4 separate regions of the Homo sapiens genome follow, and all the other regions are linked to region 1. Evidence: fine-mapped expression QTL. A gene starts in region 1. Each other region holds a variant in brackets. All regions are shown on one strand. Distances are between the middles of the regions. Region 1 holds the start of INPP5D (inositol polyphosphate-5-phosphatase D). Region 2 overlaps INPP5D (inositol polyphosphate-5-phosphatase D). Region 3 overlaps INPP5D (inositol polyphosphate-5-phosphatase D). Region 4 overlaps INPP5D (inositol polyphosphate-5-phosphatase D).

The links. PIP is the estimated chance that this variant, and not a neighbour inherited with it, causes the effect. A credible set is the group of variants that fine-mapping cannot tell apart.
Region 2: its variant is the best candidate, but not a certain one, in a credible set for the expression of INPP5D in whole blood (TOPMed, PIP 0.58).
Region 3: its variant is the best candidate, but not a certain one, in a credible set for the expression of INPP5D in subcutaneous fat (GTEx, PIP 0.54).
Region 4: its variant is the best candidate, but not a certain one, in a credible set for the expression of INPP5D in whole blood (TOPMed, PIP 0.77).

The regions. Positions count from the first base shown.
Region 1 is chr2:233,057,987-233,063,024 of GRCh38, reverse strand. It overlaps INPP5D (inositol polyphosphate-5-phosphatase D), which reads right to left and starts at 2,683. Exons shown (of 27, transcript NM_001017915.3): 1 at 2,413-2,683. The coding sequence starts at 2,546. RefSeq lists enhancers at 1-358, 359-952, 2,039-2,128, 2,729-3,008 and silencers at 329-378, 2,449-2,528.
Region 2 is chr2:233,204,055-233,209,092 of GRCh38, reverse strand. It overlaps INPP5D (inositol polyphosphate-5-phosphatase D), which reads right to left. Exons shown (of 27, transcript NM_001017915.3): 26 at 4,376-4,967; 27 at 1,190-2,387. The coding sequence ends at 2,385. It also overlaps the pseudogene RN7SL32P. Among named protein-coding and RNA genes, the nearest start is that of ATG16L1, 45 kb to the left of the region's middle. The variant T/C (reference allele first, on the strand shown) is at 2,000.
Region 3 is chr2:233,161,974-233,167,011 of GRCh38, reverse strand. It overlaps INPP5D (inositol polyphosphate-5-phosphatase D), which reads right to left. Exons shown (of 27, transcript NM_001017915.3): 12 at 3,109-3,305; 13 at 2,588-2,705. Among named protein-coding and RNA genes, the nearest start is that of ATG16L1, 87 kb to the left of the region's middle. RefSeq lists an enhancer at 2,740-3,353. The variant G/A (reference allele first, on the strand shown) is at 2,415.
Region 4 is chr2:233,177,109-233,182,146 of GRCh38, reverse strand. INPP5D (inositol polyphosphate-5-phosphatase D) reads right to left here. Exons shown (of 27, transcript NM_001017915.3): 18 at 4,801-4,882. Among named protein-coding and RNA genes, the nearest start is that of ATG16L1, 72 kb to the left of the region's middle. The variant C/T (reference allele first, on the strand shown) is at 1,962.

The DNA.
Region 1 (5,038 bases):
TCAATCTCTTTGCTTTAAATGACTGGCTTTTTTTTTTTTAATGCCCTTCCTGCCTCTTTTGGTGTCAAAGGCTGCTTTCTTTCAAGAAATGAGGTGTTGGAAGATGACAGTTTGTTATCATTCATTTAATTAGTTTTTAGTTTTAAAATCTCCGTAATTGGCAAAATCCAGGGTGGCAGCCATATGAAGCCTGCAGATGTATGGAAAGTCTGCAGGTCCATAGCAACCCACGGCCTACAGTGGAGCCTGACCCTGCAGGAAGGGAAGCTTCCCACCCTGAGCAGAGGAGAAAGGGAAACACTGAGCCCAGGGTTTGTCTGGCCAAGGGGTGGGACTCCTGGTGTTTGCAGCCCAGCAGCCTCAGGATAGGAGGCTGACGAGGCTTCGGCTGAGAGGATAGTGGACATCTGTAGGCACCACAGGTCCCTCTCTAAGGAGCAGACACTGCACACCCATCATGACTCTGAGAGAACTCAGTGCAGACAAGGGTTCAGAGAGAAGAGGTAGAGGAAGGAATACGAGAACTGGCCTGGATCCCAGCAGTTTTGACCCCAGCCAGCATGGTGGACAAAGGCCTCAGGCTCTCTGCCCTCTGTCTACCTCCTGAAAAGCCAGGGCTGTTGCACCAGAGCTTCTCCAAGGCCTCTCCAGCTCTGACTCTGGCTCAGGCTAATCCTAGACGTTAAGATGCTCACGGCTCGGAGTCAGAGAGACCCACGCCCCATGTCTGTAACCTGAGCAACCACAAAGCAAGCCCTGGTCAAAGGGCTGTGTTGAAGGTTAATGAGATGGGGCCCTGGAAGCCCTCGGCTCAGCCAACACCAAACAGCCAGGACAAGATCCCACTGGGCCAGGAGAGAAATCCAAGTAACCCACATGGGCCAGGTGGAGTCAGACTGGGCTTGTGAGAGGCCTAAGAGAATCTTCCTGCTCCTTCTAAGGCCCCGGCAGCAGCAGGTCCCCACTGGGGAAGTCCAGGCAGCCTGGGCCTGCGTTCCTTCCCCTGAGGCATGAGAGAGGGGACACAGGAAACCAGTCTTTGGAGGTGGGGCTGCAGACTGTCAGCACAGGCCAGCGACCAGCTGCGAGCCTGGCTTGGTTTCCAGTGCCCCAGCTGACCCTGTAAACACTGTGGCTCCCCTTGCTTCTTTCTCCAGCCCTGCAAGGCTACATGCCTGCCCCGCTGGACTGGGAGCAGGAGAGGTTGGGCCACAGGCTGCTGGTCTCAGCTGCAGCCTCTGGGGGCAGATGGCCGTGGCTTTGACTGTTGTCACTCACTTAACCTGCCAGGGCCTCAGATTTCTCATCTGCAAAGTGGGGCTTTTAACAGGACCTTCACTTTAGGTTGTGGTGAGGATGAAATGGGCTAACAAATGCTTAGCACGACAGGTCCCAGCTGTGAGTCAGTATTCAAAACAGGTCTGGGTTCATCACCCAATTCCCCTCCTGCCTGGAGAAGCACAAGGCCCTGGCTGCTCGGGGGAACATTTCTGCCAGCCCAGGGATGCTACTTGAGATGTTCAGGTGGACACACATTTCCCTGACTACACTCCGGCACTGCCTGAGGCCCCGGCAAAATGATTAGACCAAGAGCTGCAGGGCAAGGCCCCCCTATGATTAGACCGAGAGCTGCAGGGCAAGGGCCTCCTTCAGACGCTGGACAGGAAGGGGGTTTTAGAAAGGAACCTTCAGCAAGTGGCTGGTTCCTCCATTGTTAGCACAGCTGGTACATTCAGTAACATCCCCAACCGGGCAGTGGGAGGAGTTGATGGTGACAGAGACCCAAATTGAGGGGGTGGGGGGTGGGCAGCGGTCACAGCCAAGTGCTCAGGAGAGAGAAGAGGCTGCTCGCTGGTGGTAATGGTGACTTCCTCTGCTCTCAGGCCCCTGAAAGCAGCTTCTGACTGAATGGAAAGTCCTTTCTTGATTAAACTCACCCCATATTCTTGGCTCGCCAAACAACAGCTTCCTCCAGGGGCCCGAAGCCTGGGTGCTCCAGGAAGGGTCCCCCTTGCCACCTTTGCTCTTCTCAGGGTTTCTGAGCTGGGCATCTTTGAGCTGATCTCTAACACACCCACCTCCACAGAGCCCTGAGCTTCCTCCTGGCTCCAAAAGCCCAAACTCCCTTCTCTCGGTCCCCAGACTCCAAGGAAGCCACAAGGTCCATACAGCTCATGGGAAGCTGGGGTGTAACATCAGGCCTCAGAGTGGTTCTGACAGCTCCAAGGCTGCAAAACCTGCCATGAGACCAGCTCTCTGAACTCCAAGGACAAGGTCCATGACAGGGTGGCGGGGAAGTGTGCATGTCAGATCACTCTGTCCTGTGACATAAGAACAACCCATCTCAAAGCTGGGCCCCCTCTAAGCCCCTCTGTCATATCTGTGCCCGGGGAGGGAGCAGGTTGTACTCACAGCACGCAGAGCGCGTATGCCCGGGAGATGGACTCGCTGGCACGCACGAGGAAGCTCCCGTCCTTGCCTGTCCTGGAAAGCAGCTCCTCCGCCTTGGAGCGGGTGATGTTGCCATGGTTCCAGCAGGGGACCATGGTGGGCGTGGGCCTCCTCGGCCGGGCCGGCAGGCACCCCCAGGACCCACACACCACCGAGGGGAGCGGAGGCCCCTCCACTGCAACCTGCCGCCCGTTGCCTCTTGGTGGCCTCGGCTGCTGCCACCAGCTTAACTGACTGACTTCCTGTTTCAGGCGCTCAGTGAGGGAAAGGAAACTGAGCTGCGGAGAACTTCCTCATTACAGAAACCAAGCAAGAGAGAGAGAGAGAAAGAGAGAGAGGGGGGGGCCCTGGCCGTCCACCGTCCCCTACACCCTGCCACGGCTGCCGCGGCTCTCTTGCCAGCCCTCTCCTTCCTGGCAACTGGTCGCAGCGTACAATTGAAGTGTCCAGTGGCAGCTGAAGTCCCCCTGGGTGGAATGACCGGCTCTGGAGACGTCAGGAGAGTTGTGGCCACTTCTGAAGAAGCATGGCCTAGCAGGCATGGGTGGGCCAGAGAAGTGGTTCTTCTGCGGCCGTGCTGACACCCACGTGGGATGCCATGCCCTAGACAGGCCCCCGAGCCTTCTGCTCTCCCTCAGGGCTTTTCAGCACCCACCCTGAACCTCCAAAACACCCAAGGGGGCACAGCTTCTCAACTGGGACTACGGCCTGCCCAGGACAGAGCAAACTTGAGGGGGAGGGGACAGTCGAGCCCCACCCCTCCCCTTTAGAGACTCCCAGCGGCCTGGGTGCTGGGAGACCTTGGCTGCCACCAGCCGAGGGCGCCAAGGTCCAAGTGATGGCTCTGTGACCCCATTACCCTCATTCCCAGGGGCGGGTGGGTGCTGCACGGGCAGCACAGCTCTGATCCCTGCAGTCCAGCTTGGAGACACACAAAGGGAGCTTGGAGGGGATGTGGGCCGTTTACAGCGGGAACATAGGCTGGGTTTTTCCCTGGGCTTCTCCAGGATGCTGGGGAAACAAGCTCGGAGAGGAGAACCCCAAAGCCCCACAGGGCAGGCTGGCCGCCTGGCCAAGGACAACACTGGGTGCTGAGTCCTGCGTCTCAGCAGTCGGGGTGGCCGGTCGGACTGCACCGCCTCCAAGACTGGGCATGGCCACATATGCCCACCACTCAAAGAGGAGCTGCCTCTCCAGGGACCGCCATCCAGGACCAGTCATTTCTGAGGGCTCTGCGGTGGACACCCATCCCTCAGCCCCCAGACCTGGGCACCTTCCGTCCTTGGGTCCGGCCCACCAAGGCCGAAGGGGCACGTGTTGACCCGCTGCACAAAGAGTGCCCCCACCATCCCACATCCAGGCCTTGGCCTCCAGGACATGACAACAGACTCCCTCCAGGAAGGGGCACCAGCCAGGCAGCGCCACCACATTCAAGCTGTGGGAACCTGGTCAAGTTTCTTCTCTCTCTCGGCCTTGGTTTCTTCTTGTCTAACTTGAAGGACGTAGCTCGTAAAAGAGCTCACATGTGCCCAGGGGCTCAACATGTGTCACACTGATGGTTGTCCCAGAACAGGGCCCCCAGCACCTCCCCGCTGAGCAACACACATGGCAGGCGAGTCTGTAGGGCAGACAAAGCACTCCCAGTCAAGGACCTCTGGCCAGGCTGGGAGCCAGGCGTGGGGATAGAGTGGTGATGGGAACTGGCCTCCATGCTCCGGCCCTTCCGCAGCACGCCACCTCTGCAGCAGCCCAGTGTGGAGGCCTCTCATTCCCCACCCACGCCTCCACTCAGCACCTGTCCACCCCCTCCTTATGGGGTCATCTCCTATGCTCCCATTGTGTACCTTCACACCCTTCTCACTTCCCTGCTGGCCTCCACCAACATCCATGAAGTCCTGGACCACGCCACCAGGAGGATCCATTTGCAATACTGGTCCCTTTACACCTCCACCCACTCATCTCTAGAGACCCCTACCATGCCAAGACTGCCCTACTTAGAGAGCTTCCCCCAAACCCCCAGCCCCCCACCTCTCACACCTCTATTCCCACGGTCCTTGCCATTCCACAGAGTGAGATCCCCTGGCACACACGCCACACGGGCACTCTTCCCTCATTTTTAAGGCCCATCCCAACTTTGCTTCCTTTTCCACCCAATTGCCTGATCTATCCAGCATGGTCAGCTGGCTTGTCCCCCACCCTTCTGCCCTCCACATTCAGGAAATCCCAGTATCTAGATCAGAGCTGCCCTTTTGGTGGGTGGATTTTTTTTTTTTGTAGGTCTCCAGTCAATATAAATAATTTTAACGTATTACAAAATTCACAAACTCATGTGAGGGATAGTGATTTATCAATGAAGACTTCAAATAATGGCTAGAGAGTGGCCAGGCACAGTGGCTAACACCTGTAATCCCAGCACTTTGGGAGGCTGAGGGGAGTGGATCACCTGAGGTCAGGAGTTTGAGACCAGCCTGGCCAACATGGTGAAACCCTGTCTCTACTAAAAAAAAAAAAAAAAAAAATCAGGTGGGTGTGGTACGTGCCTATAATCGCAGCTACAGCTACTTTGGAGGCTGAGCAGGATAATCAC
Region 2 (5,038 bases), 150 kb before region 1:
AGATGGAAAAGGCAAGGATGAAAATTCTTGCATTCCACAGCGTTTCCTGTTCTGAGCACCAGGTGGGCCTCAGCTGTCCGACCACGTGCAATCAAAGCCAGGTCCTCACAGCAGCCCTGGGTTTGACTGTGGTGGGGGCACTGCATTTGCTTGAGTGACTGGAACCCAGAGCAGGTGACGGGGAGCATGATGTATGCCCCAAACAGTTGCTCTCCTACCCGTATCTCCTGGGAACCCACAGAAATGCTGGGGAGTGCCTAGACATCCATCCTAAGTGGGCATGGGGCCTTGGGCTTGACATTCTCCCTGTGGGTGAGCAGATGATGGCACTTGTGTAGCAGGCCAGCCCACCCCAGCAGCCAGTGGGTTCCCCAGGGACCATGGGCATCCATGCCTGGGTCCTCAGCTCTGGTGATGGGGGCTGGGAGACTAAAGAATGTCTGGGTGTCTCCAGCTCTCTCTCCACCGTGGCCCTTGGTCTGTTGAATCAGAGGCTGGGGCCTGGGACTTAGGTCAGGTTCTACACGGACACCAGGCAGTGAGCCTGCAGGGCGGGGACACCTGAGTGGGGGTAGGGAGCCATGGTCCCAGCAGGCACTCAGTCCTGCCCCTGCTGGGCTCCAGGTGCCACTGAGGCTTGGGAGTGAATGGTTTGCTTGGAGGCTGCCAAAGACACGGCTCCAGGCCCTGCCTGGAGCCCAGGCCTGGTGTCTGTGAGCAGAAGCAGAGGCCAGGCAGCCCAAGGTGGGGCAGAGGCGCCGTGGAAGTGGCCCGCACTGTGCCTCTGGGCGGGGGTCTACTCCCTGACCTGGGAACCCATGACCTGGGGAGTGTTGACGTGTTTTTTTTGTCACTGCAGCTTAAGTGGTGAAAACTTATAAAAGCTGGGAGGAACTTGTGGGCTGCAGGACAGCAGGTTTGGAGGGGATGCTCGTGGCCTCTGGGTGGCCGCAGGGTGCTTGGAGTGCCAGGAAGATGTGTGGGTGGAAGGAAGGAAGGGGTGCGGTTTACTCCTGTTCCTAGTCCAGGACCAGCTTCAAACTGGCTCTATGGTGTCCCATCTGGTCAGGGCAACACCATCCATCACCACCATGAACCCTTAACTGCCTCAGTTGTGCCCTGTGCAGGCCCTGCCATCTAGAAGGATATCTATGGCTCCGAATGTCAGGAAAAACGCCACACACACAGCTGAGTGAGAAAGGCACAATTTATTGGTTACGCAGACTTCCATCATGGGAATGTGGGGTGCATTCCCTTCTGCATTCACACACACCACTGGATTTAGCTCCCTACATTAATTCTGCTATGTTGAAAAAGCAACATAAGGAAAGACATCACCCATCTATTCTCCTAATAACCAAGGAAGCAGAGCTGAAAGCCACAGAGATAGGAAGAAAAGGCTGCACTATTTCAAGAGCCTGGAACCAAGAGGCCCACCCTCCCTGGCAGCCAGGCTGGAGAGCACGGCTTTCGGGAGCAACAGCAAAGACTCTTCTACCAGCACGATGGAATACATGTTGGGGGGCTTGGCTTAACTGTGGCTGGTGATGGCTGCCCACCTCGAGGAGGGCACAGGGAACCTGGCACAGGCCTTGGCATCTCTAGCCCAAGCTGAGGCCAGATCTCTCCACTGGAGAATAGGAGCTGATTTCCTGCTCCTTCCAACCAAAGAACTGAGAAGCCAGGTAGATCCCTGCTCTCAGCCTAGCCATGCCGGAACCCGCGGGACTTTAGCTAAAGCAGCTTGTGTCACTGAAGCTGGACAGAACAGGCTTCTTGTACCCTAAACAAGCTACCCAGACTCTTCAGCTCCTTAAGGCCGAGCCCTTGTCTCACTCCAGGAGGGCACTGGGCTTCTTAATGCTTTCACCCCTCCGAACACACACCGTTTTAAACTGGTGGGTTTGGGCACGTGGTTTTAGGTGGCTAGAGCCTCAGCTCTCGAGGTCATCCTGATATGACGAATGTTCGTAAAGCACTTAGCACAGCACTTGGCACA[T/C]CATGAGTGTTCGATCCATGTGGCCATTATTATTATTAATATTATTATTATCTATATCTCCACCCTCAAATCGGCGCTGCAGTTCCTTTCTTCAGAATGGCGCCCTCAACGAGGCACTGGGGTCCCAAGTACCAAGAGCGAGCTGGGGACCCAGACTGTTTGTTGCCCGTCTGGTGTGCGTTTTTCTTCCAGCCTCAGCACTTGGTGCTAAGTCTCACAGGCAGTGAACTCTGTGGGCCACACAGAAGCTAGGCCCTTTCCTGAAAACACAAAGCCTTGCATAGGAAGCTGGGCAGGAGGAGCCAGCAGGAGGTCCCGGGAGAGGGTCCAGTGGCTTCACGCCGTTCCTCTGGGCTCCCGACTCAGTGGCAGCTCACTGAGGGCTTCACTGTGGGACAAGAACAGAAGGGCTGTCAGGGCTCATTCTCACCAGGCCATGTTGAACTAAGTGGCCCAGGTCCCTGCATGCTGTGGGCTAGGCCAGGCTTCCTTTAACGTGTAGCTGAGAAGAGCCAGCACTCACTGCTCTAAGTACTTTACCTGCTTATTTAAAAAAATTGTTTTTTAGAAATGGGGTCTTACTCTGTTGCCTAGTCTGGAGTGCAGTGGTGCAATCATAGCTCACTGCAGCCTTGAATTCTTGGGTTCCAGCTAGCCTCATGCCTCAGCCTCCCCAGTAGCTGGGACTACAGGTGCATGGCACCACACCCAGGTACGTACCATATATATATATAAAATATATACACATATGTAATATGTATAGTATATATATATGAAATGATATGTAATGGATATCAATGTAAATACATAAATATAAATATATAATTTCTATATAGATGATAATACATGGTAATAATACATAATAGCCTACAATGCAATTCTCCTTCTAAGTCTATGAGGTAGGTACTATTAACAGCCCCTTTTTACAGATGGGTAAACTGAGGCTCAAGGCACAGAGCCAGGAGGTGGGAGGGCTGGGATTCAAATCCAACATAGCCTGACTGTTCTCTTTTTTGAGATGGAGTCTCACTCTGTCGCCCAGGCTGGAGTGCAGTGTTGCGATCTCGGTTCACTGCAACCTCCGCCTCCTGGGTTCAAGCAATTCTCCTGTCTCAGCCTCCCGAGTAGTTGGGATTACAGGTGCACACCACAATGCCCAGCTAATTTTTGTATTTTTAATAGAGACAGGGTTTCACCATATTGGTTAGGCTGGTCTTGAACTCCTGACCTCAGGTGATCCATCCACCTCGGCCTCCCAAAATGCTGGGATTACAGTCATGAGCCACCACGCCCGGCCTGGAGTCTGTTCTTAATCACTGTTAGTTTTGCTCAAAAAATTTTTTATTTTACATGAAGGAGAGGGAAAGTGTGCTGAATTCTCCAAAATATTGGGAAATTTTCAAGTATGAATGCGACTTAATAATAACAATGAGGCTGGGTGCAGTGGCTCATGCCTGTAATCCCAGAACTTTGGGAGGCCCAGGCAGGCAGATCACCTGAGGTCAGGAGTTCGAGACCAGCCTGGCCAACATGGTGAAATCCCATCTCTACTAAAAATACAAAAATTAGCCAGGCATGGTGGCAGGTGCCTGTAATCCCAGCCACTCGGGAGGCTGAGACAGGAGAATCGCTTGAACCCAGGAGGCGCAGGTTGCAGTGAGCCGAGATCACACCACTGGACTCTAGCCTGGGCAACAAAGAGTGAAACTCCGTTGTTGTTGTTTTTTAATTTTTTTTTTTTTTTTTTTTTGAGACGGAGTCTTGCTTTGTCACCAGGCTGGAGTGCAGTGGCGCAATCTCGGCTCACCACAACCTCTGCCTCCCAGGTTCAAGCGATTCCCCTGCCTCAGCCTCCCAAGCAGCTGGGACTACAGGCGTGCGCCACCATGCCCGGGTAATTTTTTGTATTTTAGTAGAGACGGGGTTTCACCATGTTGGCCAGGATGGTCTCGATCTCCTGACCTCGTGATCCACTGTGCCTGGCGAAACTCAGTTGCAAAACAAATTTATAATAACAATGAGATATAAATGATTTAGGCTCCTTTTCTTTATGGAATCTTCTTCCTCTGGGACTGACACTAGACTAAGTTTATCCACAGCCCCGCCTTTCTTCCTTTTAACAACTGCTGCAGAGGCAATGCAGGGTCAGGGATGTGTGGGACAGGCAGACCTGGGTTCAAATCCTGACTCTCCCTTCTCATGGAGCAGTTCCCAGGACCATCACTCGCATGTGTGCACATGCATGCGTTCACACATGCACGCACATATGCATGCGTGCACACACACATGCACACACATATGCATAGGTACACACATACGCACTCACGCATGCACACACACACAAATGCACACGAACCCACGTGTGGCGCAGCGCACCTGCATGGCAGTCCTGCCTAGAGGCCCTGGTGGCCCCTCCTCCGGCCGGTGCTTGCCGTGATGCGGGAGCTCGGTGTTGTCGCGGTAGTCGCGGCCCTTGGAGTGCTGGAGGTGCAGCACCGCCGGGCTCTTGACTGGCAGCGGCGGCCGCGGCGTCGGGGTGGGCGGGGTCTGCTGGTTGATTTCCGATCTGGAAGGCTTGATGGGCCTCTTGGCCGGCACCGGGGCCTGGGAGCTGACCGGGGTCTTGGGCTTCCCTTGGCTCTTGTCCCCGCCGGCCGCCCTGCCCTCGGCAGAGGATGAGCACGTGAAGGAGCGCAGCCGGGGCGCGGGCACCTGCTTGCCGGGCCCCTCGCCGCGATCAGCCTCCTGGGCTTTGGTGAGCACGATGCTGGGCGACAAGATGCCGGGTTCCGGGCAGGGCGGGGGTTCCTTCCGCGGCATTTTGGGGGATTCCTGGTCCTTCCTGGGAGCAGGCTTAGGGAAGGAACTCAGGGACCCATACAGGGGGTTCTCAAACATCTCGGGCTTCGTCAGCGGCAGGTCCTCCTGAGGCAGCGTGTCCCCTGCGTTCTTCCCCAGGTCACTGGGCCTAGAGCCAGGGACAGAGCAGGGAAGACACATGTCCAGGGGAGAAGACATGGGAGCATGGCTGCTTAATGG
Region 3 (5,038 bases), 100 kb before region 1:
GTTGTTCTAAGGACTTTTTTTTTTTTTTGAGATAGAGTCTCGCTCTGTCACCCAGGCTGGAGTGCAGTGGCATGATCTCAGCTCACTGCAACCTCCACCTCTCGGGTTCAAGCGATTCTCCTGCCTCAGCCTCCCAAGCAGCTGGGATTACAGGTGCGCACCACCACATCCAACTAATTTTTGTATTTTTAGTGGGATGGGATTTCACCATGTTGGCCAGGCTGGTCTCGAACTCCTGACTTCAAGTGATCCACCGGCCTCGGCCTTCCAAAGTGCTGGGATTACAGGCGTGAGCCTACCACACCGACCAGCATTTGCTGTTTCTGTCCTGTGCTAATTATGGCTGGGAGCCATTTCAGGGGAGTGGAGGAGGGAGGCTGGCCCCAGGGCAGAGAGGAGGGGAAGGAGGGGAAGGAGGGGAAGGTGTGTGTGAGCTGCACAGCCCAGAAGCTGCCCTGCAATGGTCATAAAGCTGGGACTCTGGCCAGGCCTTTCTCCTCACCCCTCAGATGCCAGTCGCACTGCCCTTCTCAGGGAGGCCCCTGACCTCTGCTCTCTGCCCACGCCACACACTCCTTCGCCAGTGCACTCCCTCCCAGGAACTGGCTTCTTTTCCTCCCGTCTGCTCATGCAATGTGTGTCAGGTCCACATGAGCAGAGCTCCTGCCTGCTCAGAAGCTGACCCAGTGCCCAGCCCTGAGGCCAGGATGACCAGGAACTGGTCTGGCTGAGGGGGTGGTTTTATGTGGCCCTAGGAGGTCCGAGCATATTCTGCACAGCGGGGCAGGGGCTGGTGGGAGGGACTGGAAGCCCAGGGAGCGATGGAATCCACACCCGGGGCGGTTGCTGGGCAGCAGGAGGGCGTGGGCGCAGCCAGGATAGCCACGCCAGCCCCACCCTTCTACTGTGGCAGGAAGGAAGGGGGACGAGTGGGGGTGGACGCGGGCAGTTTGCGGTTTGTCAGCAGAAAAGTTGAGAGAGCTTTGCACGTTCGATTGCAGCAATTCTTCTATTTCCTGTTATCTCTGGGACTCTGTCCTGTTCCTGACTCCACTGACTCCAACCACCAAAAACCACTGGCCTCGCCCCTGATGCCAGCCCTGGAGCCCTGTGTGTATACCACCCCACGTGCACACACGGGCACACACACACACACACACAAACACACAGAGAGGCTCTAGCACTTATGCACATGCACTCGGACACCCACCCTCACATACCTAGACTCTCATAAACACACACTCACAAACACAGACACATGGACTCACAGATACTCACACACTCATAGATATGGGGTGGTACACTCATACATGGACTCACATACATAGACTCACATAAACACACTCACAAACACATGCATGGACTCTCACACACTCATAGATACGGGGTGGTACACTCACACACAGATGCACATAAACACACACTCACAAACACACATGCATGGACACACACACATAGACACTCACACACTCATAGATATGGAGTGGTACACACACACGGACTCACATACATAGACTCACATAAATACACTCACAAACACATGCATGGACACACACACACTCATAGATACGGGGTGGTACACTCACACACGGACTCACATATGTAGACTCACATAAACACACACAAACACACATGCATGGACTCACACATACAGACACTCACACACATAGATATGGGTGGTACACTCATACACGGACTCACATACATAGACTCACATAGACACACTCAAACACATGCATAGATTCACACACATATAGACACACACTCATAGATATGGGGTGGTACGCTCACACATTGACTCACATAAACATGCTCACAAACACACATCCATAAACTCTCACACACCTACACAGGCTCACACACTCACATGCACGCTGTCACTCACACAAACTCACATACACAGACCTACTCACACACACATCCTACACAAACACACAGGCTTGCACTCCTACACTTATGAAGACTTCTTGCCCTTGTTACTGCTCTCTGAAGCCAGCAACTCTCCACTGACACCAGCGTTTCCAGATCCAACCTGGTGCACAGGGACCGAGGGCAGGGGCCAGCCACCTCCCGCCTGTGCTTGTAAGGAAGGTCTCACTGGTAACACAGTCACTCCCATTCGCTTTCTGGGTTGCCTATGGCTGCTTTCCCACCAGAAAGGCAGAGAGGAATAGTGTTGAGTGGCCTGCAAAGCCTGAAATATTTACTGTCAGGCCCTTCCCTTTCCTGCAAAAGTTGGCCAATGCCTCTTCTAGGTTCTTGCTTCTTAAAATGGGTCCCACGGGCCGACCAGCAGCGCTCAAGTCGCCTGGGAACCTGTCAGAAACTTGGAACCCTGAGCTCCACCCAAGATCTACTGGGTCGGAACCTGCATTTTAGCTAGATCCCTGGGACTGCTGGTGTAGACCCTGAGT[G/A]AGTTTCAGCCAGGGAGACCAATCACCCCTATTTGCTGAGGACTGAGCCAGGATCTGAGGATGTGAGGCTCTCTGTTTTTAACCCGGGGAACTACTGGTGGGATCAGGATGATGTGGTCGCGAGAGTTGAGGCAGAGGGTGTGGGAGGAACACAGGGTCCCCGCCCTGCTCACCCAGTGTGTTTGCAATGCCTGTCTTCACGTTGTCAGTACAGATGTGGCTGATCCGGTTCTCGTGCTCAGGCTTGGCCAGCACCACGATGCGGATGTTCCAGAGCGTGTGGATGGCGACCTGGTGGGAGGACAACGTTGCAATACTCGGCCCAAGTGTAGGGTGTGAACCAGGGCACAGTGATTCACACCCAGCCCCAGCCGCAGCCCCTGGGTATGGGGTATCCTGTCTGTAATCCCAACCCTTCGGGGGACTCCCAGCGATGCTTGATAGGCGAGACAAAACATCCTAAAGATGAGAACCGGGGCTGACCAAGGGTGGGAAGATAGAGGACTCAGTGGTTTTCAGCAATACCCCACAGATCCCATTTATTTCTGAATACAGACGCATCTCTCAGTGGGGGCCTCCAGACATCCTTGAAAACTGAGAGCTGATAGGCTGAGCCCACCCTTGCCTCTGAGACAGCCCAGCCGAGCAAAGATTCTATCCCGGAAGCCCACCCAGCGTGCAGCCAGCTGCTCACTGTTTTAAAAGTCACACTGGTGATTTCTTGCAGGGAGTGTTTGAGGATCTCCAGCCACTCCTTCTCACTCAGGGGGTCCTCTTGGGTGCCGATCACGTAAATGTCATGGGGGATGTAGTCCGCAGAGTCGTCCCGCGTCTTTCCCTGCCCCTTGGAGAGAAACCAGGACGTGATCTTCTTGGGAGGGGGGGCGTTACCTTCAACAGCAAAACCCAACACCAAGTGAGTCAAAGGCACATCGAGTCAAAGCATTAGGAGAATTCAAAACAGAGGGCGGGAGTGTGAGGGAGGTCACGTCATTACACAAGACCATCCAGGCAGCCCAAAGAAATGCCTGCAATGGAGGCCTGGGCGCCAACCTCACCCAGGATGTCGGTTAGGGCTAGAGCTCAGTTAAGCCTCTTTTTAAACGTAATGTCAAGTTTCAAGGTATAGAAACACCAGAAGATTCCCTGATGTCAGACACTGTCCTGCACTTTGAGGCTACGATAATTGAGACACAGTCCTGTCCCTCAAGGAACTCACATCCTATTCTCAAGACAGCCAAGGGAACTGACAAGTTTTAGATGGCGGGTTCTAACCCATTGTTGGGAGACAACAAAGTCTCCCTTGCAAGACAGATCCCAGCCCAGAGCGGAGGGATGCCTGGGTGTGAGCCAGAGAAACGGGAGAGTGTGGAAACTCCTCCGCATTCCCATTTCAAAACTGAGTTGAAGAAGCTCAATCAAGAAATTTTGAACGGTTCTCCCTACAATGCCCTTGAAGGATGAGCAAACTTTGTTCCTCAAAGAGATGAGCTTCTTGCCTTACAAGTGCAAAGAAGCCAAGCATTGGAGTAAATGGACTGTGGCTAAATTCTGCTCCCCCAAGAGGCTCAAAGTGGGTGCCCGAACCCCCGGGCTGGTGGGTCCCCGGCCCTCCTGCGGCATGGCCTCAGCTGGCTCCTTCCATACTCTTCTGTGGGAAGGGCACCCCTGCCCTTGTGTCATGGACATCCCTGACCATGTCCAGAGGGAGGAGATCAGGCAGACTATTGTCTCTTATTAGAAACACTGAAAGGGACCGAAGGGGACAAGTGACCCCCTGGGGCACTGGCCCGGGCTCTACTCCACGGCTGCTGTGGCCCTGGGACACGAGTGACAAGCTGTCACTTCACTTCCAGGAGGCCCCTGCCAGCCACTGCTCACCCTCTTCCTCCCAGACTCCTCTCAGGACAAGGGTAGGGGACACACGACACCCAGTGAAATTCCAATTTCAGATAAACTGGTAGTTTTTAGAATAAGTTTATCTGGATGTCTTCTATCTAATTTATTTCTACCTGAACACTTACACTAAAAAATTATTTAGTATTATTTATATTTAGTAGAGTGCATGTGTTTAGTAAATACACAATATATATGTTTAATACAAAATATATTTAGCATATATTTAGTATATTATTAGCTGTATGCTTAAACTAATATTACTTAGTATAATTCATATTTAATATAATAATTACACTTATTTAGCATATGTATATATACTATATATTCAGCATAATGTCTATGAGCATATATATTTAGTATTTATTTGTTTGTAGCTAAACATATACTAAAAAAAATTGTTTCTATGAAGTTAAAATTTAACTGGGCATCCTTTGTCTACGTACCTATCTCTCTGTCTCTCTCTGTCTCTCTCCTGATAAATCTGGCAACCCTACTCAGGGTGGACTTCTTTCTCTCAGGCCTGGGGCCCCTTGGTGAGCTGCCTAGGGCTGGCAGGGTTCCCATGAGCCCCTTCACCTAGATATTCAGACTCTTTCCCTAAAACTTTCCAATTTAGACATACAGAGTAACCCACGCCAGCTGCTCTTGGGGTACGATAGTCCCAAAGCTCGTTTTTCTTACCCATCATCTCAGGAAAAGGGTGGAATTCCTCAGGAAGGAGGTTG
Region 4 (5,038 bases), 120 kb before region 1:
CATGGAGATTTTTCTGGTCTAATCATTGTACTTATTTATTTACTTATTTTTGAGACAGAATCTTGTTCTGTTGCCCAGGCTGGAATGCAGTGGCGCGATCTCGGCTCACTGCAGCCTCCACCTCCCAGGCTCAAGCAATTCTCATGCCTCAGCCACCCGAGTAGCTGGGAGTACAGGTGCGTGTCACCATGCCCAGCTAATCTTTGTGCATTTTGTAGAGATGAGGTTTTGCCATGTTGGCCAGGCTGGTCTTGAACTCCTGACCTCAGGTGATCCACTCGCCTCGGCCTCCCAAGTGCTGGGATTACAGACGTGAGCCACCACGCCTGGCTCACTTTATTTTATTGATGAAGAGCCCCAAACACTGGGTGGGAAGGGGACTTAAGGCCACTCAGCTCATCGGTGGGAGAGACGGGACACCTTTTCCATCCCACGATGCCTCATAGAACCGGGAGAGAGTGGAGGACGCTAAGTGTAGAAAACTCTGTTAAGGAGCTTGGTGCTCGGGTGAGAATGGAGGCAGCAGAGCACTTTGGGAAGGGGCAAGAGAAAGAGGACAGTTCTAGAAAGACAGTTCTTTCAAGATAGCCCGTTGGAGATGCCTGGCAGGAAATGGGCACTCAAGGCTGGAGATGCATCTTTAGATGTGGAGTCTTAGGATTAGGTGGAAGCAGAAGACCTGAGCATGTCTGGGCTTTCACACGAAGGATGAGAAGAGACGAGGATGGAATTCCAGGGCACACCAACCATGAATGGGCGGGCAAAGGAAAAACCGCCAGCAAAGGAGACCAAGAAGGTGATAAAACAGACTTGGCATCCTTTTTAGAAAGCATTTACAAATCAGCAAGAAAAAGATAAACACTCCACCCTTCAACCAACCAAAGGATATGGACAGAAAATTCACCAAAAAATACAGATGGCTAATAAACATGAAAAGAAAAAAAGCTCACTTACTAAGGATCACCAGAGAAACACATGGAAACTATGAGACAGAACAGAGAAAGGGACAGGAGAGAAGGATGGGAGTGGGGGCACTGGTTGGTAGTGGAGAAGGAATAGATGGAGTCAAGGGTCCAGGGGCAAAGGCTAGGCAGGAAAGAAAGAGGAGGCTACCCCTTCTCTGAGACAGGAGGGAGGAAGATGCGAGGGCATCAGCCTAAAAACTGGACCTGAGGCCAAGCACGGTGGCTCATGCCTGTAATCCCAGCACTTTGGGAGGCCGAGGTGGGTGGATCACTTGAGGCCAGGAGTTCGAGATCAGCCTGGCCAACATGGCAAAACCCCGTCTCTACTAAAAATACAAAAATTAGCTGGGCATGGTGGTGGGCGCATGTAATCCCAGCACTTTGGGAGGCCGAGGTGGGTGGATCACTTGAGGCCAGGAGTTCGAGATCAGCCTGGCCAACATGGCAAAACCCCGTCTCTACTAAAAATACAAAAATTAGCTGGGCGTGGTGGTGGGCGCCTGTAATCCCAGCTGCTTGGGAGGCTGAGGCGGAGAATCACTTGAACCTGGGAGGCTGACGTTGCAGTGAGCCAGGATGGTGCCACTGCACTCCAGCCTGGATAACAAAGCAAGATTGTCTCAAAAAACAAAACAAAACAAAAAAAACAAAAAACTGGACACAGGCAAGAAGAAATCAGTGAGGTCCAGTGCTGTGTGAGGCAGGAGAGGATGGAGGTGGGGAGTCAGGCTGAGCACAGGGGTACAGGTTTGCTGTGGCAGTGGAGGAGGGGTGTTCCAGGGAGAATTTAATGGGTTGACGAGCAGGGTTTTTTTTTTTAAGCATTCTCAGAATATTTCAGATATGTACTGAACATAATAGCAATGGCACTACAGTGTGCCCTTAAGCCTAGGAGGTGGACTGTAAGATGGGTGACCCTCAAAGACCCAGTCCTCCTCCCAGTAACCACACTCTCTGTGGTCCCCTCCCACCATGAGTCTGGGCTTGGTCATGTGA[C/T]TTTCTTTGGCCAATGGGACCTTAGTAAACATGAGGCCAACAGAGCCTTAAGAAGAACTTCCCCACTGGTGACACTCGAATCTGGGAACCCTGAGACCAGGAAGCTAAGAAGCCAGCACTGGCCTGCTGGATGATGAGTACCACCCCTATGCCTGCTGACAGCCAGCCGACCCCAGATCTGATGGGCTCCTGCCTGAGTGTGCCCAGATGACACCAACTAGAGCAGAGGTGAGCAGTCCAAATTCAGCCTAGCGCAGAGACTCGCGAGCAAATAAATGTTTGCTTTAAGTCACTGAGTTTTAGGACAGTTTGTTATGCAGCAATAGACAGCTGATATGCCTGCTATGTTAATTGTCATGAGAAGACTGAGGCTCCCAGGTCACCCCTGTTTCCTGAGCTCTGGACATTCACTCCCTTTTCTTTTCCAACATTTTGCCTCCCCTCAACCCCAACTCATTAAACGCTTCTACTGAGCCCTCTGGCACTCAATGAAATATCATTAGCAAAATTCCCTGTATCTTTAATCTTCCTGTCACCTCCCAAACCCAGCCCTCCCCGGAAGACACTGCTGCCTCTCTGGTGAGGCTTGTTTTCCTCCCCAACCCTCATATTCCGGGCCCGGAGGTGGGGGCAAAGGGTGTCCTTCCTGCTCCTCATTGCCACTTCCGGACTGATCTCCCTCCTCTTTCTCTAAAGCCTCCACTGTCGAGCAGTTTTGAATGCCAAGTTTAGGTGCAAAACAGTAAGTGGTAATTCTACAAGCCTCCACTATCTCCTGACTCTCGGCAGAGGCTGGCTGAAGCAGACAGATGGTTGAGACAAGAATTGGCAGGATGCACGGAGCTGCAGGATGTGGGAAGGACAGTATTGACAGGGTTGACCCTGAGTGTGGCTGGGAAGGAGTGACAGGCCTGGAGAGTCCGACGGGTGGCAGGGAGGGAATGCACAAGTGAGGAGGCTGCAGGCAGAGGGTAGGACTCAGGCACTTTGAGCTTTGGAAGCTGGAACAATGCCCTGGCCGTGGCTATGAGGGCAGGTTGCCTTCCCACACATCTAAAGGTGTTGTGTGAAGTTCGTCTAGTGACGTCACTTCTGGGAGACAGAGCTCAGTCCTTCAGCAAGGAATGCAGGGTGCGTGTGTTAAACTATTTCAGGGTAGCTGCTCTGGGCTCTTCTGGGCAGTAGGAGGAGACAGGCACTGGAATGGAAGTCAGTTCAAAGTATAGGACCAGAGTTAAATAAGTGAGACCAAATTTGCCAGTCCCCAGAGACAGAGTGGGAGCCACAAAGGTGGCCAGCGGGCAGCATTCCCCCACCCCTCTCCTTGCTCCAAGGACTGGGGTGGCCATCCTTTAGAGGCCATTGTGTGGGAATTCGCAGTGTTTTAAAAATAATACCACTGGGCCTGGCGCAGTGACTCAGGCCTGTAATCCCAGCACCTGGGGAGGCTGAGGCGGGTGGATCACCTGAAGTCAGGAGTTCGAGACCAGCCTGACCAACATGGTGTAACCCCATCTCTACTAAAAATACAAAAAATTAGCCAGGCGTGGTGCTGCGTGCCTGATATCCCAGCTACTCGGGAGTCTGAGGCAGGAGAGTCACTTGAACCTGGCAGGCGGAGGTTGCAGGGAGCCGAGATTTTGCCACTGTACTCCAGCCTGGGCGACTGAGAGAGACTCCGTCTCAATAAATAAATAAATAAATAAATAAATAAATAAATAAATAATAAAATACCACAATTCTCAGTCAGTGAAGTGTTCAAAGCAACTCTGTTCTGTGGATTTTTAAGGTCTCACTTCGTAAGTAATGGGAACTAATCAGTAGCTTTTCAGAATAAGCATTCAGGCAATTAAGAACTCCTTCAGTGCACCTTCAACTTTGAGGGTCAAGAGTTAACAGTCATTTCTTTCTTTCATTTTTTTCAGAGATGGAGTCTACGTTGCCCAGGCTGGTTTTGAACTACTGGGCTCAAGCGATCCTCCCCCCTCAGCCTATTGAGCAGCTGAGACTATAGGTACGTGGCACAGTGCCTGGCTAACAGTTATTTCTTAATTGTTTTGATAACTTATTCCATAATTATTTATTTTAATATTACATGTTATGCCTTCTAAAAATCAATTTAACTCAATTTATGGTTAAACCTCCCCAAATATATATGTGTATATATGTGTACACACTTGCGACATGTATTAGTTTGAGCCATATGAATTTCCAATAACTATTTCTGACCTACAAAAACACTTTCATATGGTTCACACTTAATATGTTCTTTTCAAAAGAAATAAAACTGAATTTTTAAAAAAGTGCTCCGGGTCGGCCGCGGTGGCTCATGCCTGTAATCTCAGCACTTTGGGAGGCCGAGGTGGGCTGACCACCTGAGGTCAGGAGTTTGCAACCAGCCTGGCCAACATGGTGAAACCCCGTCTCTACTAAAAATACAAAAATTAGCCAGGCATGGTGGCAGGAGCCTGTAATCCCAGCTGCTTGGGGAGGCTGTGGCACGAGAATCGCTTGAACCCAGGAGGTAGAAGTTGTGGTGAGATGAGATCATGCCATTGTACTCCAGCCTGGGTGACAGAGTGAGACTCCGTCTCAAAAAGAAAAAGAAAAAAAGTGCTCTATAATTCAAATGTCTCCTAAAGCAGGGGATATGGATTAGGTGGCAGCACAAGACAGGCAGGGAAGCATCAACATTTCCAGGTCGCCTGATTAGGGTTACAGTGAATTCCTCCCTTTGACACATCAACAGACTGAAGCCCTTAGATTTTAGGGCAGTCACACCTCCCAGCTTGGTGCCATTCTCTGATCCTGTTCTGCTTTCCCCAGTGTTTGAACTCACCATAAGACTGACACACCACGTGCACCAGGGGATAAGACTTCCAGAGGACTCGGTCACACCAGGAAGGCAAGTTGTACTTCATCTGCAAATCAAAGTCATAGGCTTTAAAAAATGCCTCTTATTATTATTTTTTTAATCAGTAAAAGAACAGATTAACTGGTGGCCTCTGTAATCCTCAAATTCATCGGCTGTTGGCTTTTTATAGAATTTCCCTGTAGGTGGCTTTAAACTTTTTTCA